3 separate regions of the Homo sapiens genome follow, and all the other regions are linked to region 3. The links come from fine-mapping of genetic effects on gene expression. A gene starts in region 3. Each other region holds a variant in brackets. All regions are shown on one strand. Distances are between the middles of the regions. Region 1 overlaps HSDL2 (hydroxysteroid dehydrogenase like 2). Region 2 overlaps HSDL2 (hydroxysteroid dehydrogenase like 2). Region 3 holds the start of HSDL2 (hydroxysteroid dehydrogenase like 2).

What was found. PIP is the estimated chance that this variant, and not a neighbour inherited with it, causes the effect.
Region 1: its variant is the best candidate, but not a certain one, in a credible set for the expression of HSDL2 in whole blood (TOPMed, PIP 0.61).
Region 2: its variant is the best candidate, but not a certain one, in a credible set for the expression of HSDL2 in whole blood (TOPMed, PIP 0.77).

Annotation. Positions count from the first base shown.
Region 1 is chr9:112,399,252-112,410,172 of GRCh38, forward strand. HSDL2 (hydroxysteroid dehydrogenase like 2) reads left to right here. Exons shown (of 11, transcript NM_032303.5): 2 at 4,744-4,907; 3 at 6,373-6,471; 4 at 9,656-9,770. Among named protein-coding and RNA genes, the nearest start is that of HSDL2, 25 kb to the left of the region's middle. The variant T/G (reference allele first, on the strand shown) is at 4,468.
Region 2 is chr9:112,413,312-112,424,232 of GRCh38, forward strand. It overlaps HSDL2 (hydroxysteroid dehydrogenase like 2), which reads left to right. Exons shown (of 11, transcript NM_032303.5): 5 at 3,530-3,633; 6 at 5,549-5,647. Among named protein-coding and RNA genes, the nearest start is that of HSDL2, 39 kb to the left of the region's middle. The variant C/T (reference allele first, on the strand shown) is at 6,658.
Region 3 is chr9:112,374,352-112,385,272 of GRCh38, forward strand. HSDL2 (hydroxysteroid dehydrogenase like 2) reads left to right here and starts at 5,757. Exons shown (of 11, transcript NM_032303.5): 1 at 5,757-5,829. The coding sequence starts at 5,813. It also overlaps a transcript of PTBP3 not described here. RefSeq lists enhancers at 4,941-4,990, 5,091-5,340, 5,340-5,939, 5,371-5,490 and a silencer at 5,711-5,960.

The DNA of each region.
Region 1 (10,921 bases), 25 kb after region 3:
CAGACCAGCAAGGTTTTATTAAAGGTTTCAAAAGGGGAGGGGGTGTAAGAACAGGGAGTAGGTACAAAGATCACATGCTTCAAAGGGCAAAAAGCAGAACTACTAATAAGGGTCTAACAAAGATTACAGGGCAAAGGGCAAAAACAGAACCACTGATAAGGATCTATGTTCAGTGGTGCACGTATTGTCTTGATAAACATCTTAAACAACAGAAAACAGGGTTCGAGAGCAGAGAACCAGTTGGACCACAAATTTACCAGGGTGGAGTTTTTCCCCACCCTAGTAAGCCTGAGGGCACTGCAGGAGACCAGAGCGTATCTCACTCCTTATCTCAACTGCATAAGACAGACGTTCCCAGAGTGGCCGTTTATAGACCTCCCCCCAGGAATGCATTCCTTTCCCAGGGTATTAATATTAATATTCCTCGCTAGGAAAAGAATTTAGCAATATCTCGCCTACTTGGACATCCGTTTATAGGCTCTCTGCAAGAAGAAAAATATGGCTCTTTTTGCCCGATGCCGCAGGCAGTCAGACCTTATGGTTGTCTTCCCTTGTTCCCTAAAAATCACTGTTATTCTGTTCTTTTTCAAGGTGCACTGATTTCATATTGTTCAAACACACATGTTTTACAATCAGTTTGTACAGTTAACACAATTATCACAGTGGTCCTGAGGTGACGTACATCCTCAGCTTACGAAGATAACAGGATTAAGAGATTAAAGTAAAGACAGGCATAAGAAATTATAAAAGTATTATTTGGGAACTGATAAATATCCATGAAATTTTCACAATTTATGTTCCTCTTCCGCGGCTCCAGCTGGTCCCTCCGTTCGGGGTCCCTGACTTCCCGCAACAAGAAGGAACACAAGCGACCATTAACATGGGAACAAAAATATATTCCACCTCATTAGTAACTGGGGAAGTGCAAATGAAAATCACCTTGGGATATCATTTCATAATACTGAATTGGTGAAAAAACTTTAAGGTCAGAAATTACCAAGTGTTGGGGAGGTGGTGGAGCTACGGGAACTCTTATACTCATTCACTGCTGCTGGTAAGGATATTATCCTCTTTGGGCAGGGCATGGTGGCTCACACCTGTAATCCCAACACTTTGGGAGGCCGAGGTGGGCAGATCATGAGGTCAAGAGATCAAGACCATCCTGGCCAACATGGTGAAACCCCATCTCTACTAAAAATACAAAAATTGGCTGGGCGTGGTGGCGCATGCCTGTAGTCCCAGCTACTTGGGAGGCTGAGTCAGGAGAATCGCTTGAACCTGGGAGGCGGAGGTTGCAGTGAGCCAAGATCGTGCCACTGCACTCCATCCTGGTGACAGAGTGAGACTCCGTCTCAAACAAAACAAAACAAACAGAACCACAAACTGGATGGCTTAAAACAAATGGATGCTCTCACTGTTCTGTAAGCTAGAATTCTGAAATCAAGATGTCAGCAGGGCTGTGCTGTTGTAGTTCTGGGTAGAATCCTTCCTTGCTTCTTCCCAGCTTCTGGGGGTGGCCAGCAATCCTTGTGTTCAGGGCTTGCAGCTGCATCCCTCCAGGCTCTCTGCCTTTGTCATCACACATTCTCCATGTGGCTGTCTTTACATAGTCTTCCTTCTTCTTAGAAGGACACCTGTCCGATTGGAGTAAGGGCCTACTCCAATATGACTTCATGTTAACTAATTACATCTTCAGCAATCCTGGTTCCAACTGAGGTCACCTTCTGAAGTTAGGACTTCCACATGCTTTTTGGGGGACACAATTCAATCAATAACAGGGAGATAAGGCCGGGGTTATCTTCCTGTTATTGATTGATAACATCCCTTGCTGTTATCTTAATTTTATTCTTTTATTCTTTTTTAATGAGTTTACCAGGAAGTTATTTTAGATGTCTCCTTCTTACTTAGCAAGTGAGTAAGTAAAAAGTTTAAATGAACTTAATTTAATGCTAATAATCCCAGCACTTTGGGAAGCCAAGGCAGGAGGATCGCTTGAGCCCAGTTCAAGACCAACCTGGGTGACATAGTGAGACCTTGTTTCTACAAAAAATTAAAACTTTTTCAGGTGTGGTAGTGCACGCCTGTAGTCCTAGCTACTTGAGTGGTGAGGCAGAAAGATCACTTAAGTCCAGAGGCAGAGGTTGCAGTGAGCCACACTCCAGACTGGGCGACAGAGCAAGAACCGCTCTCAAAAAAAAAAAAAAAAAAAAAAAAAAAGTAGCAGAGAGCTAATGTTTTACCTAATTGGGATTCAAAATTAGCATTCCTTGTCATCGAATTGATCACAAATACTCATCTGTAACAATCAATCTTAGCTCCAGGGCCACACACAGACAGGTGGTGGGTCAGATTTGGCCTGGGGCCATAGTTTGCAGACTGTTGATTTAGACTCAGAGACCTAGGTACTAGGAATAATGAAAAAACAAGGGAGTGCATAACATTTAAGGTAGTTTTCGTTCTGTGGGGTGGGGGAGGGAAGGAGGATAGAGTTGGAGAGGAATATACAGGCTGGTTTCTGGGGTATTGGTAATATTCTATTTCTTGCCTTGATACTACTGTTCATTTTAATTTTGTTCATTAAACAATACACATTGTTTTACATGCTTTTTATATGTGTGCTATATTTCATGAAAAATAATTTCAACCTCTCTGACTTCTCCCCACTTCTCCACTCTCCCTCCTTCTTACCAAACAAATTATTCCTTATTTTAAAACCGCTTCCCACTTTTACCTCTGATCTCTTTCTTCTGGAGTGTAATCCTCTGGGTCGTGCAAGAGTTTTATGTTCCTTTATTAACAAACCTGTTAATCTATCACCAATCTCAGGTCATCCCTTTTTCTTTGTCATTGTCACTTTTGCTCTTCTTTCTCCATTCTTTTCCTTAAGCAGACTTTTAAATTTGCCCTTAGAAAGTAAATAAGAAAGCGGGTTTCCCTTGCTGTTATCTTTATTTTATTCTTTTAGTTTTTCTTTTATGAGTTTACTAGGAAATTATTTTAGGTGTCTCCGTTTCACTTAGCCACTGAGTAAGCAGAAAGTTTAAGTGAACTTAATGAAATGGGGGGAGGCCAGGGTGGGAGGATCACATAAGGCCAAGAGTTTGAGACCTGCCTGGGTAACATACCAAGACCCTGTCTGTACAAACAATTTTAAAAAGTAACTGGGTATGGTGGTGTGTGCCTGTAGTCCCAGCTACTTGTGAGGCTGAGATGGGAAGATCATTTAAGCCCAGGAGTTCAAGGCTGCAGTGAGCCATGATTGCGCCACTGTACTCCAGCCTGGGTAACAGAGCTGTCTTAAAAAAAAAAAAAAGCACGTAGGAGTTCAAGGCCAGCCTGAGTAAGATGGTGAGACCCCATCTCCATTTAAAAAAAGCAAAAAACAGGCTAGCCGGGCGCGGTGGCTCATGCCTGTAATCCCAGCACTTTGGGAGGCCAAGGCGGGTGGATCACGAGGTCAGGAGTTCGAGACCAGCCTGGCCAACATGGTGAAATCACGTCTCTGCTAAAAATACAAAAATTAGCTGGGCGTGGTGGCCCACGCCTGTAGTCCCAGCTACTTGGGAGGCTGAAGCAGGAGAATTGTTTGAGGCTGAAGCAGGAGAATTGCTTGAACCCGGGAGGCAGAGGTTGAGTGAGCTGAGATTGCACCACCGTACTCCAGCCTGGGCGACAGAGCGAGACTGTGTCTCAAAAGAAAAAAAAACACACACACACACACAAAACACACACACACAAAGAATGAAATGGGCACAGGGACCCATCAGTACATTTGAATCAGAATATTTCAGATCAACCTGCAGCAATTTGTGAGCGTTTGTTTATTTAACAGCTCTTTTGAGATGTGATTCACGTACCCCACTATGCAGTCATTTAAAATACGCAATTCATTGGCTTTTAATATATTCACAGAGTTGTGCCACCATCACCACAGTCAATTTTAAAACCTTTAATCATCCTAGAAGGAAACCCCTCAACCCTCCGTTGTCAGCCTCCAATCCCTCCCACTCCCAGCTCTAGGTAACCTCTGATCTTTCTGTCTCTATAGGTTTGCCTATTCTGGACATTTCATATAAATGGCATCATATGTGGTCCTTCATGACTGGTTTCTTCCTCTTAGCAGAATGTTTTTGGTTCATCCATGTTGTAGCTCATAGCAGTACTTTATTGCGGAACATTATTTCATTGTATGCGTGGCTACACCACATTCTGCTTATCCGTTCATCAGCTGATGGACGTTTGAGTTGTTTCCACCTTGGCTATTATGAGCATTCATTGAACAATTATTTGCTTTTAGGTAATTTATTTTAAGTGGTATGTAGTCATTGTGGAAACTTTGAAAAATATTAAAGAATATAAAGGATGTGATAAAATTTGCTCATAATCCCACCACTCAAAAAAAAAAAGCTTTATTAACACGTTTTCTGTGGGGAAAAAAATGCATGTTTATATAATTTGTTTTATAAT[T/G]CTTTATTTCTCTTGAAGATTTGCTTTGCATTTGAACAGATTTTGTTTGCTAAATCACAGCAAGACTGGCCAACTGCAGTTGTCATAAATAATTTATCAGTCATTGTGCAATGGGAGTATAGTGGAGTTATCTGCCATCAGATGGGCATGGGGAGGGTTTAGAGAAAATTTCACAGAGGAGGAAACATATATTATGAAAATATGCATGAGGTTCTGATACCTGTCAGTAAATAAAACATTGGGTCTTCTAATAAGGTCGTATTTGTTCTGTTGTAGGAGGCTGGCAGGATGTACAGTTTTTATCACAGGTGCAAGCCGTGGCATTGGCAAAGCTATTGCATTGAAAGCAGCAAAGGATGGAGCAAATATTGTTATTGCTGCAAAGACCGCCCAGCCACATCCAAAACTTCTAGGCACAATCTATACTGCTGCTGAAGAAAGTGAGTGTGACAGTGCCATTTGATAAAATGTCTTTCTAGTGGTTTCAATACATAGAGAATTTGCTGGAGAGTTTAGTTAAAGCTATTTGAAAGCTACCCTGAACATAATTTTATCTAGTGAAAGAAGTATTTATGTTGTCACCTTGGGGCAGTGCTTCTGACCGTTTTTCTCCACCAGCACTTTTAAGCAATGTGAGAAACTCCAGTTAAAAATCTTATTTCATGGCGGGGCGTGGTGACTCACACCTGTAATTTCACCCAGCTACTCGGGAGGCTGAGGCAGGAGAATCACTTGAACCTGGGAGGTGGAGGTTGCAGTGAGCCAAGATCATGCCACAGCACTCCAGCTTGGGTGACAGAGCGAGACTCCATCTCTTAAAAAAAAAAAAATCTTGGTTCTTGAGGGCAGTGGTTCTTGGATGGGAGGGGGAGTAGGGAAGTGGAGTAGAGAGGAGAGAATTTGATTGGTGAGTGGCATGAACTCTTTGAGAAAGCGTTCTGTGTTATTTATTCTCTGTACAATTTGCAAGTCATCATTTTAATACTTTTAGTTGACAAATAATTATCACATACTTCTATTTAAGGCATAGCGCTAGGCACAGAGCCAGGAGAGAGGGCTTAAAAATTCAAGTTCAGTTGACATTGCTAGTTTTGTTAATCATGTTCAGAGCACTGTGGTTATGTTAGAGGAATGCATGTGAAGTGTTTATGAGTGAAATGATGTCAGGGATTTGCTTTAAAACACACCAGCAAAAAATAAAACAGGGGACAGGAAAGATAAACATATTAACTGACAAAACTAACAATCGTTGAAGATAGGTGATGGATTCCTGTTAGTTTATTACAGCATCTTTACATTTTTATATAGTTTAGAATATTTCCACAATAAAAAGTTTTTAAAAATTACTTTCAACTGGGTGAGGTGGCTCAAGCCTGTAATCCCAGCACTTTGGGAGGCCAAGGCGGGTGGATCACTTGAGGTCAGGAGTGCGAGACCAGCCTGACCAACATGGCAAAACCGTGTCTCTACAAAAAATAGAAAAATTAGCCTGGCGTGGTGGTGCATGCCTATAGTCCCAGCTACTTGGGAAGCTGAGGTGGGAGGATCCTTTGAGCCTGGGAGATTGAGGCTGCAGTGAGCTGTGTTTGTGCCACTTCACCCAAGCCTGGGCAAGAGAGTGAGACCCTGTCTGAAAAACAAAAACAAACAAACAAAAAACTTCCTTTTTTTAGCTTTTTAAAAAAATTACAAAGAAACCCCCACCAAACCTTCGTTTTTGTTTTTTAATAGTGTTAGCCTAGCTAGTCTGTCCTGCTATATGGTAGAGTCACTGGTGGTAAGATAGAGTTATTTATATTGATTTTCTGAAAACAGGGTACTTTTTTCTTTTGACTGTGATATTGGAATTAAAGGTATAATATTTAAATGCTTTAACGCTTTTTCATTTTGTATCCTTTATATAAGTTGAAGCAGTTGGAGGAAAGGCCTTGCCATGTATTGTTGATGTGAGAGATGAACAGCAGATCAGTGCTGCAGTGGAGAAAGCCATCAAGAAATTTGGAGGTAATACCTTCATTCTGAAAAAATTATTGGATATTGGTAAAATAAAGGTATAACTATAATGTTAATTTAAAAATTTGTTTTGAGTTTTGAATTTTCTGAGTCTTTGGAGAAATACGTATTTGCTCACACAGAACATGATTTAAAACCATCTGATAAGGCTGGGCGTGGTGGCTCACACCTGTAATCCCAGCACTTTGGGAGGCCGAGGCAGGCAGATCACTTGAGGTCAGGAGTTTAAGACCAGCCTGGCCAACATGGTGAAACCCCGTCTCTACTAAAAATACAAAAATTAGCTGAACATGGTGGTGGATGCCTGTAATCCCAGCTACTCAGGAGGCTGAGGTGGAAGAATTGCTTGAACCTGGGAGGTGGAGGTTGCAGTGAGCTGAGATTGCACCACTGCATTCCAGCCTGGGTGACAGAGCAAGACTCTGTCTCAAAAAGAAAAAAAAAAAAAAGAAAAAGAGTGTGGAATGATAGACTGTGGAGACTGGGAAGAAAGAAGGGATGCAAGGGGGGTAGATGAAGAGAAATTACTTAATCGGTACAATGTTTGCTGTTTGGGTGATGGATACCCTAAAAGTCCTGGACACTGCACAATCTATGTATGTGAGAAAATTGCACTTGTGCCTTATATATTTGTTTTTGAAAAAATTCTTCCTTTATGTGGTTAAATTTCATCTTCTTCACAAAGTCAGTTCCCTCACCATGCCAACTAATCAGAATTATATTTTTCTTTCTCTGATTTCTTTTTTCTTTTTTTTTGAGACTGAGTCTTGCTCTTGTCACCCAGGCTGGAGTGCAGTGGCGCAATCTCGGCTCACTGCAACCTCTGCCTCCTGGGTTCAAGCGATTCTCCTGCCTCAGCCTCCCGAGTAGCTGGGATTACAGGCGCCTGCCACCATGCCCAGCTAATTTTTGTATATTTAGTAGAGACAGGTTTCGCCACATTGGCCAGGCTGGTCTCGAACTCCTGACTTCATGATCCACCCAACTCAGCCTCCCAAAGTGCTGGGATTACAGGCGTGAGCCACCGTGCCCGGCCTCTCTGATTTCTTAAAACATTCATTTGATCCTTATCTTGTACTATTTTAGATCTTAGTATTTCTTTTCTCCCCAATTAGTTCAAAAGTTCCTAGAAAAAAGGTGTTGGGGATTGAGCTAAGGCTTTCATGGTATTATAGTAGGGCACCTAGGCATGTCCAAATCCTGCCTAAACCATTACCACTCTCCCCGCTAATGTTCTGGAGGACCATATGTACATGTGAGGGACAATGGCCAGTGGAAAATGAGGGAATGCTTCAGTGTTAGCAAGGCTGTACTTATAATCCCAATGCAGAGTGCTGTGGGGTGCTGGACTGAAGCACGGAGCTTTGGCTCAAGTGGAGCCTCTTCCCTTAAATCCAAAATCTTACCCCTAGCCGGCAGCCTTTCCCAAAGAAATGTGAATGCCTGTGTCAGAAGAGGAGAGAAAATGCAAAATGATGTTTGTCCAACTGATAGGGCGCTAAATGTGAAATGTGCCACGCTCAAATGCAGGATATTTTATCTAAAATGACTTCACCTAGTAGTAAAAGTGGTTAACTAGTGCCACTTAGGATTTGATGTAATTAGTTTATCCACTAATTTTTGGAGAGGACGTAAGGGGAGAAAGCTGAAGCTTTTCATTCTCCCATATTCATTCAGTTTTAGTTCTTTTTTTTTTCTTCTTTGAAACAGGGTCTCACTCTGTCACCCAGACTGGTATGTAGTGGCATGATCGTGGCTCACCACAGCTTTGGCCTCCTGGGCTCAGGTGATCCTCCAACCCCAGCCTCCCAAGAAGCTGGGACTATAGGTGCCCACCACCAGGCCTAGCTAATTTTTGTGTTTTTAGTAGAGATGGGGTTTCACCATGTTGGCCAGGCTGGTCTCAAACTCCTGACCTCAAGGGATCCACCCACCTCAACTTCTCAAAGTGCTGGGGTTACAAGCATGAGCCACTGTCCCCAGCCTTGAATTTATTATTTAATTTTTTAAAATTGTGGTAAAATACACATAACATAAAATTTACCATCCTATTTTTAAGTGTACAGTTCAGTGACATTGAAGTTTATTATATTGTTACACAACCATCATTAAGTACACTTCACAAAGAATAATGAAGACCAGGTAGAAACAAAGAAAAAATGTTTGACATAGTTTTTGTATTTTTACCATTTTCCTTTAATGTTATTTCACTAAGCATATAACTATAAGCAAAACTTGTTGGTTATAGGTAGAAACTAGATAGAATTTGCAGAAATAGTAGTTACTCTAGGTTTATTTTTTGTGTGTGTGTATGAGTCACTAAAACAAAATTGATCCACTTTGATGATCTGCCTGGGATTGAAACAGTAGGTCTTTCTCTTTTCCCAGTTCTCAAGACCAGAAAGGAGCCTTTCCCTTTAAGTGAGGGGCCTTGGGGGAAGGGAGACTACTATGCTTGGAGGGAGGACAGGCCTTTGAAACTTCATGCTAGAGAGGAAGAAAGACTTTAAGGAATTTGATCCAAGGTTTATGGAGACAGGGAGGGACAACCAGGAGGTAAGAGAACAGTTAAGAGTGGAAGCTACAAACCACCGAAGACTAAGCCTCCTTGTAGTTTCACATGGAGCTCTGGCAATTGGCTATATCTCCACTGTGCTAGTGACAATCATGCAGGTGCTATTTTGAAATAGCTACCAGTCTTGCATTGGTAGTGGTTAGTCATATTATCTAAAGGAAGTATAGCCATGCATTGCTTAATGATGGGGATATGTTCTGAGAAAGGCATTATTAGGTGATTTTATGATCGTATGAACATAGAGTATACTTACACAAACATAGATAGTCTAGCTGACCACATACCTAGGCTGTATGGCATAGCCTATTGCTTCCAGGCTGTAAAGCTGTATAACATGTTACTGTACTGACTACTGTAGGCGTTTGTAACACAACAGTAAGTATGTATCTGAACAAACTTAGACAGAAAAGAGATAAAATAAAAAAACAGTATTGTAATCTTAAGGGACCATGTTGCGTATATGGGCCATTGTTGATTGAAATGTTAGGTGTGGTACATGACTGTATTTGTGAATCAACTGAGGGTTCAAGAGAGTAAACGCTTTTTTTGTGTGTGATAAAAAGTCTTTCATTAAAATGAAATTGATTATTTTGAAAACAGGAATTGATATTCTGGTAAATAATGCCAGTGCCATTAGTTTGACCAATACATTGGACACACCTACCAAGAGATTGGATCTGATGATGAACGTGAACACCAGAGGCACCTACCTTGCGTAAGTTTGCAAGAAGAGTTGTTGGGGAGGAAGTTGCGGTGTTTCTCAGGGAACTTACATAGTTGTAAACAGATTTGAGCCAAATTAACAGTGTAGTTCAAAATCTAGTCAATCCTTATAAGGGTCTAAAAGTCCTTCATTCAGTCAATAGTATTTTATTTTATTTTTTATTTATTTATTTTTTTGAGATGGAGTTTCATTCTTGTTGCCCAGGCTGGAGTGCAGTGGCACGATCTCAGCTCACTGCAACCTTTGCCTCCTAGGTTCAAGCGATTCTCCTGCCTCAGCCTCCTGAGTAGCTGGGATTACAGGCGCCCACCACCATGCCCAGTTGATTTTTTGTATTTTTAGTAGAGACAGGGTTTTACCATGTTGGCCAGGCTGGTCTCAAACTCCTTACCTCAGGTGATCCACCCACCTTGGCCTCCCAAAGTGCTGGGATTACAGGCATGAGCCACCATGCCCAGCCCGATAGTATTTTAAATAGCTTTATTTGGAGCTCCTTTTCTCTATGAATTTAGGAAAGACTAAAGTAGGCTGAGTGCAGTGGCTCACACCTGTAATTTCAGCACTTTGGGTGAGGGGAGTATTATTGGAGGCCAGGAGATTGAGACTGAGATGCACAAGATGGCAAGACGCTGTCTCTACAAAAAAAAGTTTTTAAAATCAGGCAGGCATAGTGGTTTGTGTGCTACTGAGACTGTGGTGGTGGTCTCATCTACTCAGGAGACTGAGGCAAGAGGATCCCTTGAGCCCAGGAGTTTGAGGCTACAATGAGCTGTGATCATGCCACTGCACTCCAGCCTGGGTAACAGAGAAAGACTGTCTCCAAAGAAAAAAAAAAAAGACTAAAGTGTAGCTCAAGCATTTTCTCAAATATTTGCATGTGTAAATACTTACATGTATACTCTGTCTTTCATAGGACACAGTCCTTTCATAGGACTATTTAGGATTACTGAAGCCAGCAATAGTCTCCTTCCTCTGAAAAAGACCTGGCGTTAAAAAAAAAAAAAGACGTAGGTTTTAGTTATTTAAATAACAGTAAGGTCATTCTCATTATGAATCACACTTTATTGTAACCAATAAAAACACTAATACTTTCTTGGGCTTTGCCGGGGAAATGTAGACTATCGAATGAAAGAACATAGTCT
Region 2 (10,921 bases), 39 kb after region 3:
CTACTAAAAATACTAAATTAGCAAGGTGTGGTGGCACACGCCTGTAATCCAGCTACTCGGGAGGCTGAGGCAGGAGAGTTGCTTGAACCCAAGAGGCAGAGGTTGCGGTGAACCAAGATCACGCCATTGCACTCCAAGAGTGCAACGAGAGCAACAAGTGCGAAATTCCCTCTCAAAAAAAAAGAAAAAAAAGAAAAGAAAAGAAATATTTCTATTTTATTTTATTTTTACTTCCCTGGTAACTCACAGAACACATTTCTTTTTTAATTTGTATTTTTCAATTTAATTTATTATATACTCTCCAGTATTACATTGTTTGTATCATGTTAAATGCTTTTAGAAGCTTAGTAGTAAGGTTCAGTTGTATCTCTGAACAGTTGATTTTTCTTATTCCCAGCTGTTTGAAATGCTTGTTCCCTGGTGCCATAAAGAAATAGCACTTGAACATAAATTTAATTTACTCAGCAAGGCCGTTTTTATACTTTCTGCAGAAAGGGTATACTTGCCAGCAGTTTTGCCACAAGAGTACACCGATCAAAGCAGACAGGGTCATTTATAACCTGACGCGTCCACCCTACTGCTGTGTCCGGTTTCCATTGGCTGGAACGGGACCTGACGTTCTGTATTTGTCCCGGTTGGCTAGCAACTTAGAACTTTTTTTAAAAAGAGGCAAAGGCAGAGGAGAACAAAGGAAGGAGGAGGTAACTTGTGGAATGCTGAGAACGGTAAAAACACCTTCAAATAAGGAAGAGGAACAGGCTATGACCTAATGCTTGCTTGGACCAGTATATGCATGCCAGGGCAAATATTTAGGCTAAATTGTGGGAGCTAAGAACTTAAAGTACATTGATTTCTTTATCATGGCTAGCAGATATTTAAGAATGTTAGTACGGGTCTTTGAATACATTTTGCTTCTAAGAGAAGTTACTATTTATTCCTAATTAGACAGGGAGGAAAGTCTTTGAAGAGGAACCTCTAGTTTTTACACCAACTCACTTTATTCATTTACTCAAATGCCTTACAGGTCTTTGAGTTTGAAACCCCAAGTAAGTAAAATAATTCATGAAAGGTAATAAAAACAGAGTCTGGCACATAGTTAGGTTTTCAGTAAACGTAACTATTTTATTCGGCTGAAGGTATCAGTATCTAAGTGTGGTGCTAAGAGTTTTCAATATAATATATAAGAGGGCATGCTACTGTGACAGATGCACCTGATGTAGGATTAGCAATGTTGAGGTCCAGGCCAGCAAAGTGCAGATGGAAAGGTCTTGTCCCATAGATCAAAGGAAAGCCCATGTTTAGAATGTAAATGAAATGAGCTCTTTCCTTTGAGTGTAAAATATGGTCTTATTTACTGGAGTAGATTTAGTTTGTTTCTTCTTGATGCTTCGAGTTGCAGTTTCACTGTTTTAATGAAACTCAGCTGTAATATTGTTTGCCCCACCTCACCTCACCTCCATAAAAGTGAAGCACCTTTGGAAATGAAAACAGTATCTACCAAAACCCCTCTAGTGGTATTGATTATATTTGGTAAGCTTGGTAAGATGTTGCTGTTTTTAACACCAGTATTGTACATTTGGTAATTAAAAAACTGACTTGAAAGAAGAATGAACTAGTTCATTCACAGCTCCTGGTTCAGGGTAAAGAAAAAAAAAAGAATGGACAAGTTCAGAGTCCTAGAAGTCCTAGAAGTCATTGAATGTAAACGAAAGCTAAATTTGTAGCTAAAATAAAGCTATAAATTAAGCTATAATATATTATTTAGCTGCTGACATTATGTAAAAATTAACATTTTAGAAATATTGAATCTGAATCTTAAATAAATTACCTACCTTAATGAGTGACTTTTTAAAAATAAAGCTATGTATTGCACCCAAAGGCATATTTTATATTGGTGAAAATTAAATTTGGGAATGTAATGAGAGTTATATTACTAAATTACAGTTCCAATGTAGTAGAAGTACTATGCCTATTAAGATGAAATAAATCAGCATACATAATACTAACAACAGCGATTGTTTATTTCATGTTTAGTATATACATTGTCCTAAGTATCTCATATATATCATCTAATTTTAATCTCTTGGTCAATCATAGAAGGTAGTGACTTTTACCAACATTTGCAGAGGAGAGAACTGAGCATTAGAATGCTATACAATTTTCCCAGGGTCACACAATGAAGGGGCAGAAGCAGAATTTGAACCCTGGTCTGTCTGACTTGAACACTCATGTTATTTACCACTGTGCTGACCGACAAGTATATTAACTATCTCTGAAAATTACATATGTGTGTTAGGGAGGCAGAATTTGGGATGGTTGTGGTTGCGGATAACCTCAGTTGGGCTTAAGGCTAGTATATCAAGGATTTGTTTTTTTCCATCAAGCAGATCATGTTGCCAGGCCATTAAGCAGAATTTCAAAGGATGAAAATTAGTTGCTTTTTCTGTCTTAATTCTAGAAAGCAAACAAAAGTACCCTATGAACAAAACAAACAAACAGTTCCCTACAGATTTCTGAGCAAGTTCAGTTACTCTGTAGGAGTAGTTTAAAATGTATCTTGGCGGAGCGTGGGTGGATCACGAGGTCAGGAGTCGAGACCATCCTGGCTAACACGGTGAAACCCCGTCTCTACTAAAAATACAAAACATTAGCCGGACGTGGTGGCGGGCGCCTTGTAGTCCCAGCTACTCAGGAGACTGAAGCAGGAGAATGGCATGAACCCGGGAGGCGGAGCTTGCAGTGAGCGATTGTGCCACTTCACTCCAGCCTGGGCAACAGAGCCAGACTCCGTCTCAAAAAAAAAAAAAAAGTGGATTGGCCCGGCATGATGGCTCACACTTGTAATCCTAGTACTTTGGGAGGCTGAGGCGGGTAGATCGCTTGAGTCCAGGAGTTTGAGACACGCCTGCGCCACATAGCAAGACCCTGTTTCTAAAAAAAGAAAAAAAAAATTACAAAAACTATCCAGGTAGCTGGGCATGCTGGCACATGCCTGTAGTCCCAGCTACTCAGGAGGCTGAGGTGAGAGGACCACTTGAGCTGGGGAGGCAGAGGCTACAATGAGATGTGATCATGCCACTGCACTCCAGCCTGGCAACAGAGAGACCCTGTCTTAAAATTAAAAAAAAAAACAAACAAAAAAAAAGAAGTTGGCTGGTCGCAGTGGTTCACACCTGTAAACCTATAATCCTGGCACTTCGGGAGTCTGAGGTAGGAGGAGTGCTTGAGTCCAAGGGGTTCAAGACCAGCCTGGGCAACAAAGCTAGACCCTGTCTCTAAAAAAAAAAAAAAAAGTACAGAAATTAGCTGGGCATGGTGGTGCTGCACACCTGTAGTTCCAGCTACTCGGAAAACTGAGGTGGGAGGATTGCTTGAGCCCAGGAGCCCAGGAGCTCAAGGCTTTAGTGAACTGTGATCGAGTCATGCACTCCAGCCTGGGCAACAGAGCAAGGCCCCCTCTCTTAAAAAAAAAAGTGGAGAAATTGTTAGAAAGCTATTAAATTTGGCTTGTATTTTCTTTTGCTTTCAGATCTAAAGCATGTATTCCTTATTTGAAAAAGAGCAAAGTTGCTCATATCCTCAATATCAGTCCACCACTGAACCTAAATCCAGTTTGGTTCAAACAGCACTGTGGTAGGTGGTAGGTGGTAGGGTGAGGGGATGGTTTGTGCTTAATTTGTTTTGAATTAAATCTGTGTATGTCTGATGTAATCACAATCTGCACATAACATTCATCATTGAATTTTCTATGCCAAGTCATTAAGTGGCATTTGGAAAGTAGATTCTTCATCTTTTATCTGTAATTTAAAAAATTGAGGCATAATTGACATTCAATAAAATGCACAGCTCTTAATGGTTCAGTTTGATGAGTTTTGAGAAATGTATATAACCAACACCCAAATCAAGATACAGATTTTTACCATTTCAGAAAGCTCTTTCATTTCCCAATGAGTGTGTTTTACTGTGTGTAATTTATTCATCTATAAAGTTGGTTAAAAACTATCTATGAGATACTTTATTTTTCTTAGACAGGTATGCACCTGTAGTCCTAGCTACTTGAAAGGCTGAGGTGGGAGGATCGCTTGAGCCCAGGAGTTTGAGGCTGCAGTGAGCTAGGATCATGGCACTGCACTCCTGCCTGGGTGACAGAGCGAGACCCTGACTCTAAAAAAAAAAAAAAAAAACGACAAAAAAACCCTATTACCTTTCATAGCAAACTAATGGTTTAAGGTAAATATGCTAAGTAACAAGATTTACATATAGATGCCTCCTTTAAAATAGTTGTATCAAACACTTAGTTTTTATTTCAGCACAGTTCACTAACATTTGGAAAGGCACTTGGAATGGGAACCCACAGAGCAAAACTGAAAGAAGTTCCACTTTAATTGACTAGGTTAAATACATTTGCAGCCTTTTTTTATTATTGTTTTACTAGCAGTAGTTTCCCTTTAAATAAACACTTTCATTCTTAAAAAAAAAAAAAAGTCCAGGCATGGTGGCTCATATCTGTAATCCCAGCACTTTGGGAAGCCGAGACAGGCAGATCACTTGAGGTCAGGAGTTTGAGACCAGCCTGGCCAACATAGTGAAACTCCATCTCTACTAAAAATACAAAAATTAGCTGGGCATGGTGGTGCACACCTGTAATCCCAGCTACTCGGAGGATGAGGCACAAGAATCACTTGAACCTGGGAGGTGGAGTTTGCAGTGAGCCAAGATTGCACCACTGTGCTCCAGCCTGGGCAACAGAGTGAAACTGTATCTCAAAAAAAGAAACATATTAAGAGATAATAATGTAATTTACCCTCATAGTATTAAGAAAAATGAAAGTTTATTACTGTCACTTTTATTTTAATCAAATATTAGGAGGGAGATATATAAAATGATTTCATCTCTGTTCACTTCTATAAAACCTGTTCTTTACAAAATAGTACAGTGAAAAGTTATATTTTATATTATTGAAAAGAATTCTCAAAAATATATCAGGGAGGCTGGGTACGGTGGCTCGTACCTGTAATCCCAGCACTTTGGGAGGCTAAGGCAGGTGGATTGCTTGAGCCCAGGAGTTCAAGACCAGGCTGGGCAACGTGCAAAACCCTGTCTCTACAAAAAAATTGAAAAATTAGCCAGGCTTGGTGGCACACACCCATAGTCCCAGCTACTCGGGAGGCTGAGGTGGGAGGGTTGCTTGAGCCCAGGAGGTAGAGGCTGCAGTGAATCGTAATCACACCACTGCACTCCAGCCTGTCTCAAAAAAAAAAAAAAAGTATGTGTATATATATGTATATATGTATGTGTGTGTATATATGTGTGTATTACTATTTTCTTCCTGATATATATGTGTGCGTGGGTGTGTTGTATGTATATGCATATATATACACATGTATATGTATATACACACAGATATATACACATACATATGTATATACATACATGCACACATATATCAGGAAGAAAATAGTAATAGAAAAATTGGTTATTTCTACTCACAAGTTAATCAAATTAATTTCTTTTATAATTAAATTATTATTTTTTGTGGTTCTTTCAGCTTATACCATTGCTAAGTATGGTATGTCTATGTATGTGCTTGGAATGGCAGAAGAATTTAAAGGTGAAATTGCAGTCAATGCATTATGGCCTAAAACAGGTATGTATTTTTAAAAACTTCATTTGTTAGATTTTCATGTATTGTCCTTGACACTTATTATTATTTTTTGACAGAATCTCACTCTTGTCATCCAGGCTGGAGTGCAGTGGTGTGATCTTGGCTCACTGCAACCTCTGCCTCCTGGGTTCAAGCAGTTCTTGTGCCTCAGCCTCCCAAGCAGCTGGGACTATAGGTGCACACCACCATGCCTGGCTAATTTTTGTATTTTTAGTAGAGACAGGGTTTCACCATGTTGGCCAGGCTGGTCTCGAACTCCTCAAGTGATCCTCCCACCTTGGCCTCCCAAAGTGCTGGGATTACAAGCATGAGCCACCACGCCCGGCCTGTCCTTGACACTCTTGAGGTGCATCTTGGGTATGATAGGGTGAGAGTATGTAGACTGTTAATACTAACTTCAATCTGTTTGTTGGGAAACAAGTTCAACTTTTTATTGTACAACATAAGATCCTTTTCAATCATCTTCCTGCCTTGGCTTAGACTACATGAGTGACTCTTCAGCCAATAGCCTTTGTAGGAACATTGACCACCGGAACACTTTAAGAATCTTTTGAAGGCCAACAGGAGAAGCTGCACTTCCCCAACTCTTTCTCCATCTTTGTTTCTGGAAACTACCTAAATTCTGCAGATTCTCATACTTTTGTTTTCTCCTCACACATTCTAACAAATGCTTTTTAACATTTTTGTATTCTTACTGGCCTTGTCTTTTTCCTTTAGAAAAAGCTGGATTATCTTTCCTTTCACATGAATTCTTCTGAATTCACAGAGTACCTGGAACCCTGTGAGATGACAGAAGAACCTGTGTATGCCTGGGCTTGGTGTGCAAATTTACAGTTATGATATAACAGAAGTTGATGGCTTCCTTGCTGGGCAATAAGATATATAAAAATGAGGGAAAGCCAGCAAAAATGAGAAAAAAGGAAAGCCTGTCTTTCTTATAGGTTCTTACCCTCTGCTTGTATATCAGAGTAGCTTAAAGGAAGAAAAAGAGA[C/T]GATAACATTTCACTACACATTTTTCCATGTACTAGTGGGTAATGCCCATGAAAACCTTAACTTCTTTTTATCTTAAGTGTAAATGGTGCCGGGTGTGGTTACAGATGGCTCATGCCATCCCAACACTTTGGGAGGCCAGGATGGGCAGATCACTTGAGGCCAGGAGTTTGAGACAAGCCTGGGTAGCATGGCAAAACCCCGTGTCTACTAAAAATAGGATAAATTAGCCAGTTACTTGGGAGGCTGAGGCATGAGAATCACTTGAACTTTGGAAGCAGAGGTTGCAGTGAACCCAGATTGGACCACTGCACTCCATCCTGGGTAACAGAGCAAGACCCTGTCTCAACAACAGCAACAAAATATGTAAATGGCAATCACATCGCAGAAAAGTATGTCTAATGATAAACAGTATGCAGAGGGACTGGGTGTGGTGCCTCACTCCTGTAATCCTAGCACTTTGGGAGGCTGAGATTGGATGGGAGGATTACTTGAGGCTAGGAGTTTGAAACCAGCCTGGGCAACATAGTGAGGCCTCTTAAAAAAAAAAACACACACAAAAAAAACCTAGCTAGGTGTAGTGGTGCACACCTATGGCCCCAGCTGAGATGGGAGGATCACTTAAGTCCGGGGGTTGAAGGCTGCAGTGAGCCATGGTCATGCTGTTGCACTTCAGCCTCAGCGACAGAGTGAGACCCTGTCTCAACTAACCCACTTCCCCTTTGTCCCGAGAATACTCTTGTCTCTAATTCTAATGTAACATCATATACATTTCTGTTACATTAGGGTTTTCCCATTTGTCCCGAGAATACTCGTCTCTAATTCTAATGTAACATCATATACATTTCTGTTACATTAGGGTTAGAGACAAGTTCTGTTTAGAAATAACTCAATAACTTTTATGTTTTCACATTGAAAATCAGTCAGATTTGCTTCAGCCTCAACGTGTGTGTTTATGTAAAATTAAATGAGCGCTGGTAATTTTTTTTTTTCCTAAACAGGAAGTGGGTTAAAAAACAAACAAAAAAAGAGAATGCATAGTGGGAACCACTTTTTCATTTCACTCTTTAAAAATGTAACAGGCCAGTTGCAGTGGCTCGTGCTTGTAATCCCAACACTTTGAGAAGCAGAGGCAGGAGGATCTCTTGAGCCCAGGAGTTCAAGACCAGCCTAGGCAACATAGTGAGACCCCATCTCTACAAAAAATTAAGTTAGCTGGGCACAGTGGAGCATGCCTGTGGTCACAGCTTCTCGTGAGGCTAAGATTGTAGGATTGCTTGAGCCCTGGAGATTAAGGCTGTAGTGAGCCGTGATCATGCCACTGTACTCTAGCCTTTTGAGACAGGACAGAGTGAGATCCTGTCTCAAAAAAACAAACAAACAAAAATTGAACAGAAACTTGATTATACTCACATTGGAATTTAAACAGAAAATCAACATGGCCCCTCTACGAGGAACCACCTTAGGAATCAATACTGGTGTTTCTGCTCCTAGGGTAGTGCTCTGCCCGTAATAGTCACTCAGATCTTTGTAAATGCATGATATTTTTGGATTCCTTTGGAAAGTCTTCATATTCTTCATTACATTTAAAAAAAAATTTTTGTAGTTTTTTTTAGTGGAAAGGGGGTTTAGCCATGTTGGCCAGGCTGGTCTTGAACTTCTTGCCTCAAGTGATATATCCTCCTCGGCCTCCCAAAGTGCTGGGATTACAGGCATGAGCCACTGCACCGGCCTTATTACATTTTTGAAAACATTTCTACTGATGGCAAATTGGAATCTTTTTCACTGAATTTGCCGGCAGAGGGGGTTTCTAGATGACTACTGGAATTCATGTCCCTGCCGTCCCTCCCTTTCCCCTGATTGGAGCAGCTGCTAGGACGGTGGGCAGGTGAGCCTATGAAGGAATGAGTAAGACTTGATTCTGTAAGAGAAGGAACTTGAGAAGCTTGTGAAAGACTGTTCTCTCTGAGCTAGAGGACAGAATGGAGCCAGGTGAGAGAACTTGAGAAAGAACAGATACTCAGAAGGGCTTTGACCACGGAGATCTGAGGATTCAACAGGGTGACTCAACAGGCAAGATAAGTATTTCCTATCCTTGAGGAGTGGAAGTGAGGAGACCTCAGAGACTTCTTCAAGTCCCAAAATAGATTCAGTGACTGGTATATCTGATATGATAACTTACTACTGCTGGCAAAGCTGGCATCATTTAAACTATCCCGGGCGACAGAGTGAGACTGTCTCAAAAAACAAACAAACAAACGAACTATATAAGGGTGAACAGTGCTATAAGGAAACAAAGAAAAATTGCAGTACAGCTAAGAGGACCCAATATCCAGACATGGAAAAAATAAACAGAACACCAACACCCAGAATAGCAGTTTTCAGTGAAATCAAACTGTTAAAGAAAAAATATCTCAATTTAAAAACAAAAATCCTGACATAAGAGATTGAAATATAATATGAAAAATGCTCTCTGGAACTAAAAATAGATTGTGTTTTTAAAATATACATATATATGTATGTAATAGTTGAAGGGTTGGATGTTGAGTAACACCTGGGTAAGCAGCTTGGATATTCTAGTGCAAGAAGTATCTCAGAAGAGCAGAAACACCCTGAAGTAAATGGAGAGAGACTTAGAAGACACATCCGGGGAACTTCACATGCAAATACCAGGAGTCCCAGAAGGAGGTCTGGAAAGAGAACAAATAGAGGAGAAACAATAATTGAATGAATAATAGGAAACAGTTCCCTTGAGCTGAAGAAAGACCGATATGGATGTAAACTAAAAGGTTTACCAAATTTGAGGCTGAATTTATGAGGGGGAGAAAGACATCTGGGAGAACCTCAGAATTTCAAGGATAAAAAAATCTTCCAAGCCTTCAGGCAGAATATATGTTACTTACAAAGGAAAATGATTGCAGACTCTTTTATCTTCAATGCCAGAAACTAGAAGGCAGTGGAATAACATCTGTACGTTGCTGATACAAAGGGACTCAGCCAAGATAGTTACTTATTGACAAGATGAAGGGAAGATATGTGGATATGCTACCACACTTGAGAAGAGTCTTGTAGAAAGGGCTGTTAACCAAGCAGCAAATCTGTCAGAACAGAGAGTTTTCAAGATAGGAGTCAGAAAAAAGAGGAGAGAAAATAATGGCTGGCAAATAAACCTGTAGTACATTTAATATATGGTCAAATGTACATGGATTATATAGAATAACTGGGAATATGAAATACAAGTACCAAATAACAACTCCCTATATTGAAGAGACAAGATAAGAGAAAAGTTTAATAATTGTCTCTAGCCAAAAGCACTACACTGTCTTCAAAACCTGGAATTTGGGGAAGAGGGAAATGTGGAAGTCATTGAATTCTTTTCTTTTCTTTTTTTTGAGACGGAGTTTCGTTCTTGTCGCCCAGGCTGGAGAGCAGTGGCATAATCTCGGCTCACTGCAACCTCTGCCTCCTGAGTAGCTGGGTTTACAGGCGTTTGCCACCATGCCCAGCAAATTTTTGTATTTTTAGTAGAGAGGGGGTTTCACCATGTTGGCCAGGCAGGTCCCAAACTCCTGACCTCAGGGATCCACCTGCCTCGGCCTCCCAAAGTGCTGGGATTACAGGTGTGAGCCACTGCCCCAGGCCAGAAGTCCCTGAATTCTAAAGGACTTATATGAGCATGGGAACATTAGGGAAGGGAACACTTTCTAACCGTCTCGTTTTGAGGCAGCTACAATTCTAGATGGTATCTTTGTTGTTGTTTGTTTTTTGAGACAGAGTCTCACTCTGTCGCCCAGGCTGGAGTGCAGTGGCACAATTAGCTCACTGCAACCTCTGCCTCTGAGGCTCAAGCGATTCTTGTGCCTCAGCCTCCCGAATGGCTGGGATTACAGGCACTCGCCCCCACGCCCAGCTAATTTTTATATTTTTAGTAGAGACAGGGTTTCACTATGTTGGCCAGGCTGGTCTCGAACTCCTGACCTCAGATGATCCTCCTGCCTTGGCCTCCCAAAGTGCTGGGATTACAAGCGTGAGCCACCACACCTGGCCTAGATGGTATCTTTTAAAAAAATTAGACTGGGCGCAGTGGCTCACGCCTGTAATCCCAGCACTTTAGGAGGCTGAGGTGGGCGGATCACGAGGTCAGGAGATTGAGACCGTCCTGGCTAACATGGTGAAACCCTGTCTCTACTAAAAATACAGAAAAATTAGCCGGGCATAGTGGCGGGCGCCTGTAATCCCAGCTACTTGGGAGGCTGAGGCAGGAGA
Region 3 (10,921 bases):
CAGGAACAGGAAGCAAATATTTGCTAGTGGATCATTGGGCGTTACGGTAAGTAGTGCCACTTCCACTTCTACCCCTTGATTCCTGGACCCATGAATCCTGGCTATGGGAGAAACAGTACCATATATTGAACACTGATTCAGAGCATACACAACCTTCTGGAGAACTTTGCCCCAGCCCTGCAAAGTATTGTCACCTAGTTGGTGTTGTAATTGTGACATCAAAAGGCCATTCCACTGTTCTATCAATCCAGCTGCTTCAAGATGATGGGGAACATGGTAAGACCAGTGAATTCCATGAGCATGAGCCCACTGCCACACTTCTTTAGCCATAAAGTAAGTATCTTGTTCAGAGGCAATGCTGTGTGGAATACCACGACAGTGGATAAGGCATTCTGTGAGTCCATGGATGGTAGTCTTGGCAGAAGCATTGTGTACAAGATAGGCAAACCCATATCCAGAGTAAGTGTCTATTCCAGTGAGGACAAACCTCTGCCTTTTCCATGATGGAAGAGGTTCAATATAATCAACCTGCCACCAGGTAGCTGGCTTATCACCATGAGGAACTGTGCCATATTGAGGGCTCAGTGTTGGTCTCTGCTGCTGGCAAATTGGGCACTCAGCAGTGGCTGTAGCCAGGTCAGCCTTGGTGAGTGGAAGTCCCTGTTGCCCATGAATAACCTCCATCCCTGCCACCATGGCCACTTTGTTCACGGGTCCACTGGATGATGACAGGGGTGGTTGGGGAAAGAGGCTGAGTGGTGTCCACAGAACGAGTCATCCTATCCACTTGATTATTAAAATCCTCCTCTGCTAAGGTCACCCGTTGGTTAGCACTTCACAGTTTTTGAGCATTCAGAGAGGTCCATCTACATACCTCTTCCCCAAATTTTATTGTCACCAATTTTCCAATCTTGCTTCTTCCAAGTCCCTGACCATCCAGCCAAATCACTGGCTACCGCCCATGAATTAGTGTATAATCATACATCTGGCCATTTCTCCTTCCATGCAAAGTGCACATCCAGGTGCACTGCTGGAAGTTCTGCCCACTGGGAAGATTTCCCTTTATTGCTGGCCTGCAGGGATGTCCTAGAAAGGGGCTGTAGTGCTGCAGCTGTCCACTTTCAGATGATGCCTGCGTATCATGCAAAACCATCTGTGAACCGGGCCCTAGTCTTCTCTTCCTCTGTCAACTGATCATGTCAACTGATCATGATCATAGGGAACTCCCCATGAGGCCACTGGTGCAGGCTAGGGCAAAGAAGGCAGGGTGGCACGAGCGGAGACCATGAGCATTTGAGCCACTTCCTCATGTAACTTATTCCTCAGGTGCCTTCAGGACCTGCTAGAGCCCAATCATGCATATAACACTTCCACTTGATGATGGAATACTGCTGTGCACGACCCACTTTATGGCTAGATGGGTCAGAAAGCATCCAGTTCATGATAGGCAGTTCAGGTCACATGGTGACTTAATGACCCATAGTCAAACGTTCAGTTTCCACCAAAGCCCAGTAACAGGCTAAGAGCTGTCTCTCAAAAGGAGAGTAGTTATCTGCAGAAGAAGGCAGGGTCTTGCTCCAAAATCCTAGAGGCCTCCACTGTGATTCATTTATGGTGGCCTGGCAAAGGCTCCAAATAGCATCCCTATCTGCCACTCATCCCTCAAGCACTATTGGATCTGCTGGGTCATATGGCCCAAGTGGCAGAACAGCTTGCACAGCAGCCTGGACCTGTTGCAGAGCCTTCTCCTGTTCTGGACCCTACTTCTGGTACCAAAATCCGTATTAGTCAGGGTTCTCTAGAGGATATATATATATATATATATATCCTATTACTTCCTTATATACGTGTGTGTGTGTGTGTGTGTGTGTGTGTGTGTGTGTGTAGGGGAGTTTATTAAGTTTTTTTTTTTTTTTTTTTTGAGAAAGAGTCTCGGTCTGTCACCAGGCTGGAGTGCAGTGGCGTGGTCTCCGCTCACTGCAACCTCCGCCTCCCAGGTTCAAGCGATTCTCCTGCCTTAGCCTCCCGAGTAGCTGGGACTACAGGTGTGTGCTACCACGCCCAGCTACTTTTTGTATTTTTAGTAGAGATGGGGTTTCACCACGTTGGCCAGGATGGTCTCCATCTCTTGACCTTGTGATCCGCCTGCCTCGGCCTCCCAAAGTGCTGGGATTACAGGCATAAGCCACCGCGCCCAGCCTATTAAGTATTAACTCACATGATCACAAGGTCCCATAATAGGCCATCTGCAAGCTGAGGTGCAAGGAGAGCCAGTCCAAGTCCCGAAACTGAACCTGGAGTCTGATGTTGGAGGGCAAGAAGGGGATAAACGCACAGGAGAAGGATGTAGGCTGGGAGGCTAGGCCAGTCTCATCTTTTCAGGTTTTTCTGCCTGTCTTATATTCACTGGCAGCTGATTAGATGGTACCCACTCAGATTAAGGGTGGGTCTGCCCTTCCCAGCCCACTGACTCAAATGTTAATGTCCTTTGGCAATACCCTCACAGATACACCCAAGACCAATACTTTGCATCCTTCAATACCATCAAGTTGACACTCAGTATTAACCATCACAAGCCCTATGAAATAAAAAGTTTTATGACCCCTTTCTTCCCAGAATTATGAATGCCAATTTACTTGCTCTACATTTACGCAACTTCCATGACCTGGGGTAGGTAGGTATGCAATGTTGTGTTACTTCCCCATTGTCCATATCCACTTGTGTCCCTGGCCATGGCCAACTAATTTACAGGTTGAAACATTTCCCAGCACCTTGGAAGGCTGTGTGGTGGGAGGATTGCTTGAGGTGAGGAGTTCAAGACCAACCTGGGCAACATAGTGAGACCCCTGTGTCTATAAAAAGTAAAATTAGCCAGGTGTGGTGGCACATGCCCGTGGTCCTGGCTACTTGGGTGGCTGAGCCCAGGAGGTTGAGGCTACAGTGAGCCATGATCATGCTGCTACACTCCAGCCTGGGTGACAGAGCAAGATCTTATCTCAAAAAAACAAAACAAAACGAAACACATTGTACTAGACTGTCTTAGTATTTGAAGCTTGAACAGATACACAGAAAAGACAGGGAAGCCACCTACAATGCATTCTAGAAAGATCATGCTGCTGAGGATCATGGAAGCACCTTAGTTCCCATTGTCAAGCTTAGTTGTTCAGCTCTTCCTTAAGTTATATAAACTATCCCAGAATTCTTCTAAATTCTCCAACCCCTTTAATTTGGTTTAAATTAGCCAAATTACATTAATGTTGCATATAACCAAAACTTAAGGGATATAAATTGGTTGGGAGAATGTGTTGTAACCAGTAGTCTGTCAGGAAACTGTTGCATTTTTAGGTAGTTTTATCAAGCTGAGAAGGGGTGAAATGAGTGAGACTTACCTGACTTTCAAGACATCTATTTTTCAAACCATTTGTTTTCACTTCTTTACTGTGTTATCACCATCCTCCCAGGACTTTACACCAGAAATCTGAAGGTCACCACTGATACCATCTTCCCCCTTTGCTCCTACATCTAATCATTAGTTACATCTGCCAGGTTCCATATCTTGAGTATGTCTTTTCATTTCTACTATTACTGCCTTAGTTCAGGTTACTACTTTTCTTACACATTACATTACTATGGGCTTTTAAATGGCTTCTGTGCCTTTATCTACTCACAAACTATTCTTCATGCTGCAGTCAGAAGTGTTCTAAGCCAAAATTATTCACCTTCCAAAATGAAGATCTAATTATGTTCACAAGTCCTCTCCTTCACCCATTCCTCACCTCTAGCATTAATCTAACACTAGGTTAATCAAGGTAATGGGGTAGAAGGTCATGGGTAACTCCAAATCACACTTTAAATGAACTCTAGTCAAAGTACTGAATACAATGGATTTAAACTTGCTTGGTAAAACTACCTCTAATAATTTAGGAATATATTTGCCTTCTGTGAAAGCCATCGCAAAGTATAAAAATAGTGTAAGTACAGGTATTTAGGCTCACAAAATATCGTTATGACTGAAAAATTGGCAAAGGTTTTTTGTTTGCTTTGCCTCTTCGTTGAGCTCTCTTTCCGTAACAAATGGAAATAGAAGCACACAAATTCAAGAAAGGAGGCTCTAACAGACTGAAGATATTGTGGCTTTCAAAAAGGAGAGAACATTTTAGATGATATGAAGGAAATGTCACCCCGTTACTAAGAATTCACTCTATTCGACAGATATATACACGCTTCAGCAAGTGCTCCTAAGGATGAGAGGAGAGTAAGTTATTTTCATCTAACAGTCTCTATCAACACTCTTCTTAAAACACCTAATGCTTAACAACAGTCTAAAGAACACACTGGCTACTCATACCTCCCATAGGCAGAGACCTTGTCCTTTTTGAGCTGCTGTATCTCAGGTAATCAGCAATCACTTAGTGGATGATAATAATTTGCAAATTCCTCTGGAGCCTCTAAAGACCGTATCATGAATCATCAATTCAAATGCCTACAGGAGTCGGGCAGGTGATATGCAGGAGGAAATAGAGTCATTTAGGGCCCATAACAAAGGGGAGAGAGGCCGGGCGCGGAGGCTCACGCCTGTAATCCCAGCACTTTGGAAGGCCGAGGCGGGCCAATCATTTGAGGTCAGGAGCTCGAGACCAGCCAGCCCAACATGGCGAAACCCCGTCTCTACTAAAAACACAAAAAAATTAGCCAGGCGTGGTGATGCATGCCTGTAGTCCCAGCTACTCCGGAGGCTGAGGGAGGAGAATCACTTGAACCCGGGAGGCGGAGGTTACAATGAGCCGAGATCCGCGCCACTGCACTTCAGCGTGGGCGACAGCGAGACTCCGTCTCAAAAAACAAAACAAAAACAAAGGAGAGAGTACATAAGCCATCTCCAGGCTAGTTTCTTTAACTAGTCTTCATATAATAATCTCCTCAAGGTCCTGTTCTATCCCTACAAAATACAAAACAGTTCCTCGTGTCTTCCTTCAAATATACTACAGTCTTTAGCTCATCAGAGTAGCTGAGTTAGTCCAAGGCATAATCCCAAAAGCGAAACTGAATGTCAGAATTGATCTCATTTCAACACTCATTCCAGAAGTAGAAACTTCTGCAAGTTCAGCTTTTGACTATGAATTCTTCAGCGCGACTTTTGCAGAGAGCTCTGTTCCAAGAAGCTGGCGCCTTAACACAAGCTATCTACCGATGCACAAGGGAAGGCTGGCTTGGGTCCAGATTCGGCGGGAGAGTGGAAACGCGACGCTGGCCGACTTCAGCCACAAAGGCAATTTCTGCCCAGGGCTAGCGTTCCTAAGAGGGGGCCGAGAGAACGCCAGGCTCGGGCGTAGGGGCAAGAAGACCCAGAGCTAACGCACCTCTCGGAGGGCCCAAGCTCAGGGCTCAGTCACCCTCCCAGCTCGGAGCCGGCGCTGGAACACAGCGGCGCGAGGAGAAACCCCTAGAGACAGGGAAAAGGTGGACGTAGCGGCTGACGCTGCCCAGACGCTAGGCGCCGACAGGAGCCTGATTGTCACCGTACGACCAGTGAGGGGGCGGGGCGGAGCTGTGCCTCAAAGCGCCTGCGCGGAGAGCCTGCAATCAGGGACCAGGCTTGGGAGGCGACGAAGAGGAACGCTGGGCGCAGGAGGCCCACTGCATACGCAGGCGCACTCGGCGATCCCGGCTTTTCCGCGCGCAGTTCCCGCACAGGCATCGGGGGGGGCAGGGGCGGGGCAGGGGCGGGGATAAATGCGGAGGGACGGTCCAGCTTTAGCTCTCTGCTCGCCGCCGCCGCTGTCGCCGCCACCTCCTCTGATCTACGAAAGTCATGTTACCCAACACCGGGTAAGGGGGTAGGGGCGGCGCGGGGAGAGACCCTGTCGGGCGAAGGGCGCGTCTCGGTGGGGCCGCCGCGGATCGCCCGGGCTGGCCGGCCCGGCTGTGGGAGGTCAAGGATACTGCCTGGGCACGCTCTGAGCTCTGGTCCGCGCTGGGCACTGTGCACCGAGAATCTGCGGTAACGTGTGAAAAGGAACACAAACTTTTGTATTACAGGATGGCAGCAGTGTAGAAACCTTTTCCACGGGTAAAGGGCCGAGGGGGAGTCACCACGCCGCCCCCAGTGCCGGCCCTCCCTGAGTTTAGCAGGAGTGCGTGCCTGGCCGAATGCGTGTGAGTTCTAGGTGAAAGGTCGCAGGAGCAGCTCCAGAGTTTAAAGAGTTTTCACTTGTTCCTGACGCTCAATTCTAGAGTAATAATGGAGTGTTTAAAAAATGATTTCCAAATTAGAAACTAAACCGATCTTAAAACATGGGTATCTTTGGGGGATTTTTTTTTCACCTTAAAAAATTGTGTTAAAATACGTACAAAATCTGCCATCTTAACCGTTTTTTAAGTGTACACTTCAGTAGTGTTAAGTAGATTCATATCGTTGTGCAGTCAATCTCCAGAACTTTTTTCATCTGCAAGCTGAAACTCTATCCATGAAACAACTCCTCTTCCCCACCTCCGCTCGTACATTGGCAACCACCATTCTACTTTCTGGTTTATGTAAGGTCTGGGTATCTTGAGTTGAGTGACGTGTTGTCAGATTTTGTAATTTGCCTGAAACATGCAGGCATATAGCCAAAGACTTAAAACAGTTCAAAGAGTATAGGGTAAAAAGTGAGTCTCCCCATCCCTAAAATCTAGTTCCCCAGTTACTTACGTTTCTATTTCGTGCATGTATGAACATAATTTGTATACATCCGGATACACACACACACACACACACACACACACATACCCTTTCTTAAAAATAGCAGCAGACTCTATTCTTGGTCTTGCTACTTTTAGTTGGTATGTCTTGGGACATTCTTTCTTTGTTTTTTTTAAAGACGGGGTCTCCCATGTTGCCCAGACTGGCCTGTAGCCTTGAACTCCCAGGCTGATGTTCCTCCCTTCTTAGCCTCTGGAGTATTTAGGATTACAGGCATGCACCGCTGTGCCCAGGGACATACATTTTTAGTACATGGCAGATCTTCCGCCTCCTTTTTTTTTCTTTTGAGATGGAGTCTCGCTCTGTCTTCCAGTCTGGAGTGCAGTGGCATGATCTCGGCTCACTGCAGCCTCCGCCTCCCGCAATTCTCCTGCCTCAGCCTCCCGAGTAGCTGGGACTTCAGGCGCGTGCCACCACGCCCTGTTGATTTTTTTGTATTTTTAGTACAGACGGGGTTTCACCATGTTAGCCAGGATGGTCTCAATCTCATGACCTCGTGATCCGTCTGCCTCGGCCTCCCAAAGTGCTGGGATTACAGGCGTAAGCCACTGCGCCTGGCCCCTCCTCCTTTTTAATGGTTGCATAATATTCTGTAACAGCTTGAGTATCCATTATCCAAAATGCTTGGTTCCAGACGTGTTCGGATTTCAGATTTTCAGATTTGGTTTGCTCAACCTGTATATGAATATACCTTTGTTTATTTAACCTGTTCCCTATTGTTGGATACTAGACTGTTTCCAGTTTTTTGGATACTCTTTTTTTGCTTCCATAATTATACTTGTATTTATCTATTTGCACATATATAAGTGTATATGTAGGATAAACTCCTGGAAGTGAAATTGCTGGATCAAAGAGTAAATGTGGCTGGGCACAGTGGCTCACGCCTGTAGTCCCAGCACTTTGGGAGGCCGAGGCGGGCGGATCACTGGAGGTCAAGAGTTCGAGACCAGCCTGGCCAACGTGGTGAAACTCCGTCTCCACTAAAACTACAAAATTACAAAAATTACAAATACAAAAATTAGCTGGACCTGGTAGCGGGCACCTGTAATCCCAGCTACTCAGGAGGCTGAGGCAGGAGAACCGCTTGAACCTGGAGGCGGAGGTGGCAGTGAGCCGAGATCATGCCACTGCCCTGCCCTCCACCCTGCGAGAGAGAGTGAGAGTCTGTCTCAAAAAGAAAAAAGAGGAAATGCACTTTATATTTTGACAGATATTTCCAGATGACCCCCCAGAAGGGTTGCACACCCAAAAGGATAAATGAGATCCTCTAATCCCACTTGTTGGCTAACCGCAAAATAGTTAATGATGAAAATCTAATTAGAGAAAAAAGTGTCACCTCATTATTGTTAAAATTTGCATTTATTTTATCACAAGTGTGGATTTGGATCTCTTTGTGTATTTAAACCAGGGACAATTTGATCCCCAGAGGACATTTGGTAATATCTCAAGACATTTTTGATAGTCACAATTGAATGGAGATGCTAATGGCATCTCGTGAGTAGAGTACAGGGATGCTGGTGCACATCCTACAATTCACAAGCATTCCGTACAACAAAGAATTATGTAGTCCAAAAGGTCAGTAGTGCAGAGGTTGAGAAACCCTGGTTTAAAGCCATCTATGTATCTTTATATTTGTCTGGCTTAACAAATGAGGTTTTTCGTTAATCTCTGAGGGCTCTGTGTATTTTAAAAATTTGTCTTTTATCACATTACAAATATTTTCCACAGTTTTTCATGTTGCATCTGGACTTTGATTATACTGTTTATTTAACATGGAGAAACATGTTTTTGTGAAGCCAGAGTTATCAGTCTCTTAAGGCTTTTGCATTTTTGAGTTAAACCAAGATCTTTTTTTTTTTTTTTGAGATGGAGTCTTGCTCTGTAAGCCTTTGAGTTAAACCGAGATCTTTCTTTCTGTCTTTCTTTTTTTTGAGATGGAATCTTGCTCTGTATGCCTTTGAGTTAAACCGAGATCTTTCTTTCTGTCTTTCTTTTTTTGAGATGGAATCTTGCTCTGTTGCCCAGGCTTGAGTGCAGTGGTGCGATCTCGTTTCACTGCAACCTCTGCCTCCCAGGTTTAAGTGGTTCTCCTGCCTTAGCCTCACAAGTAGCTGGGATTACAGGCGCACACCACCATGCCGGCTAATTTTTGTAATTTTAGTAGAGATGGAGTTTCACCATGTTGGCCAGGCTGGTCTCAAACTCCTGACCTCAAGTAATCCTCCTGACTCGGCATCCCAACATGCTGGGATTACAGGTGTGAGCCACCGTGCCTGGGCAGATCTTTTTATAATTAGTTTTCTTCTGATATTTTTATGGTCTTATATTTTTGTATTTTTCAAATATATTTGTATTGTCTATATTTTTTATAGTCAGATTTTTTTATCCCCCTGAGATTTCTTTCAGGAAGTGAGTTAGGAAGCCCACTTGATTTTTCTTCAGATGGCTGCTCATTTGTCCTAGCAGCATTGACCTAAGAGTTAATCTTTTCTCTTCTGCTCGAAATTCTACCTCTGTTGTATATTAAATTCTTGCACATATAGCGCTCTGTTTCTGGACTTTCTGCTCTGCTACTTTAGTCTCTATTCATGTACCAGTACCAGACTGTTTACTTAATTAATTAATTGAGACAGGGCCTCGCTCTGTCACCCAGGCTGGGGTGCATTGGCACCATCATAGTTCACTGCAGCCTTGATCTCCTGGGGTTAAGCAGTCCTCCCAGCTCATCTTCCCAATTAGGTGGGACTATAGACATGCGCCATAATGCCTGGCTATTTTTAAAAAATTTTTTTGTAGAGGAGTCTCACTTTGTTGCCCAGGCTGGTCTCAAACTCCTGGGCTCAAGTGATCCTCCTGCCTCAGCCCCCGAAGTGCTAGGATTACAGATGTGAGCCACTCTACCCAGCCCAAACTATTTTAATTGCTCTAGTTTTACAAAATGTTTTAATATGTGGGAAAGCTAGTTCCCACCACATTTGGATTATTTTTCAGAATTTTCCTGGTTATACTTGGGTATTTATTTTTCCAAATGAAGTTTAGAATAATTTGTATAGTTTTTTGGAAACAGTTGTTCTTCCTTTTACTAAAAATTTCAGTACTTTTACCTGATTTTGGGGTACCAGAGAATTTTAGTAAATTAAACTGTAAGTTAGCTCTTCATCAGCAAGTTTTAGCCATCTATCAATAATACTAAGAAATTTGGAGCCTTCTTTGAAGTGCTCTTGCCTTCTATATTCTGGTACTAATGCTTTGGAGCTGGAGGACTTCTTACTGGCACAGATCAGGGTTATGTTTGCTTTTTTTTCTGCCAATGCCAGAGACTCTGAGTGAGGAAGAAAATGCCCTTTCTCCTACTGGGAATCAATCAAGCTATACTCAAAGCAAAGAGATATGGCTTTTTTTTACAGCAATAGTTGGGACATTTTCTTGTAAATACTTACATTAAAAATCACTTTAGCCTGTGGTCCCAGCTACTTGGGAAGCTGAGGTGAATCACTTGAGCCCAGGAGGTTGACGCTGCCATGAGCTGTTGAGGCTGTTGTGGTAAACTGAGGACCAGAGAGACCGATATTGGGAAGACAGGAGGATGTTTATTTAAGGTACTCACCGGCTCAGTGGATTCACATCCAAAAAGCTGAGCCTTGAACAAAAACAGAGTTTAGCTTATATAGGCCAGCATACAAGATCAAAACAAAGGCAGTAAATTTTACAGTGACAAATCACGTAATCCATAGCATAACTGCTGACCTGGCACTAACCTGTGGCCTTGCATAGCTAGTGGCCTAGCAGCTGCATCGAAAGAAAAACAGGAACTTTGCAAATCTTACTAAATACAAGCATTGGCAAACATAGTCATAACTAATAGTACAAGAGAGACAGTAAAGGAAATTGTTTTTCGTCTTTTAACCTTGCTCAGGGGTGTCTGGAGTTCATTTCTGCAGGCTAGGTCACCACGACCTGTCTACAGCCTTGCTTGCAGTAGTGAAAAACTTGTGCAAGACTGTCAAAAGAAAAACACAACAACAACAACAACAGAACCACTTTAATATTTTATGTATACTACCTTTTGTATGAAAAAAGGAAGGGATAGTTTTTCACATACATAGAGTGTTTTATATATATATATGTTTGCTTATGTTTGAAAAAAGTACAAAAATGATAGGCCAGAAATTAATGAAG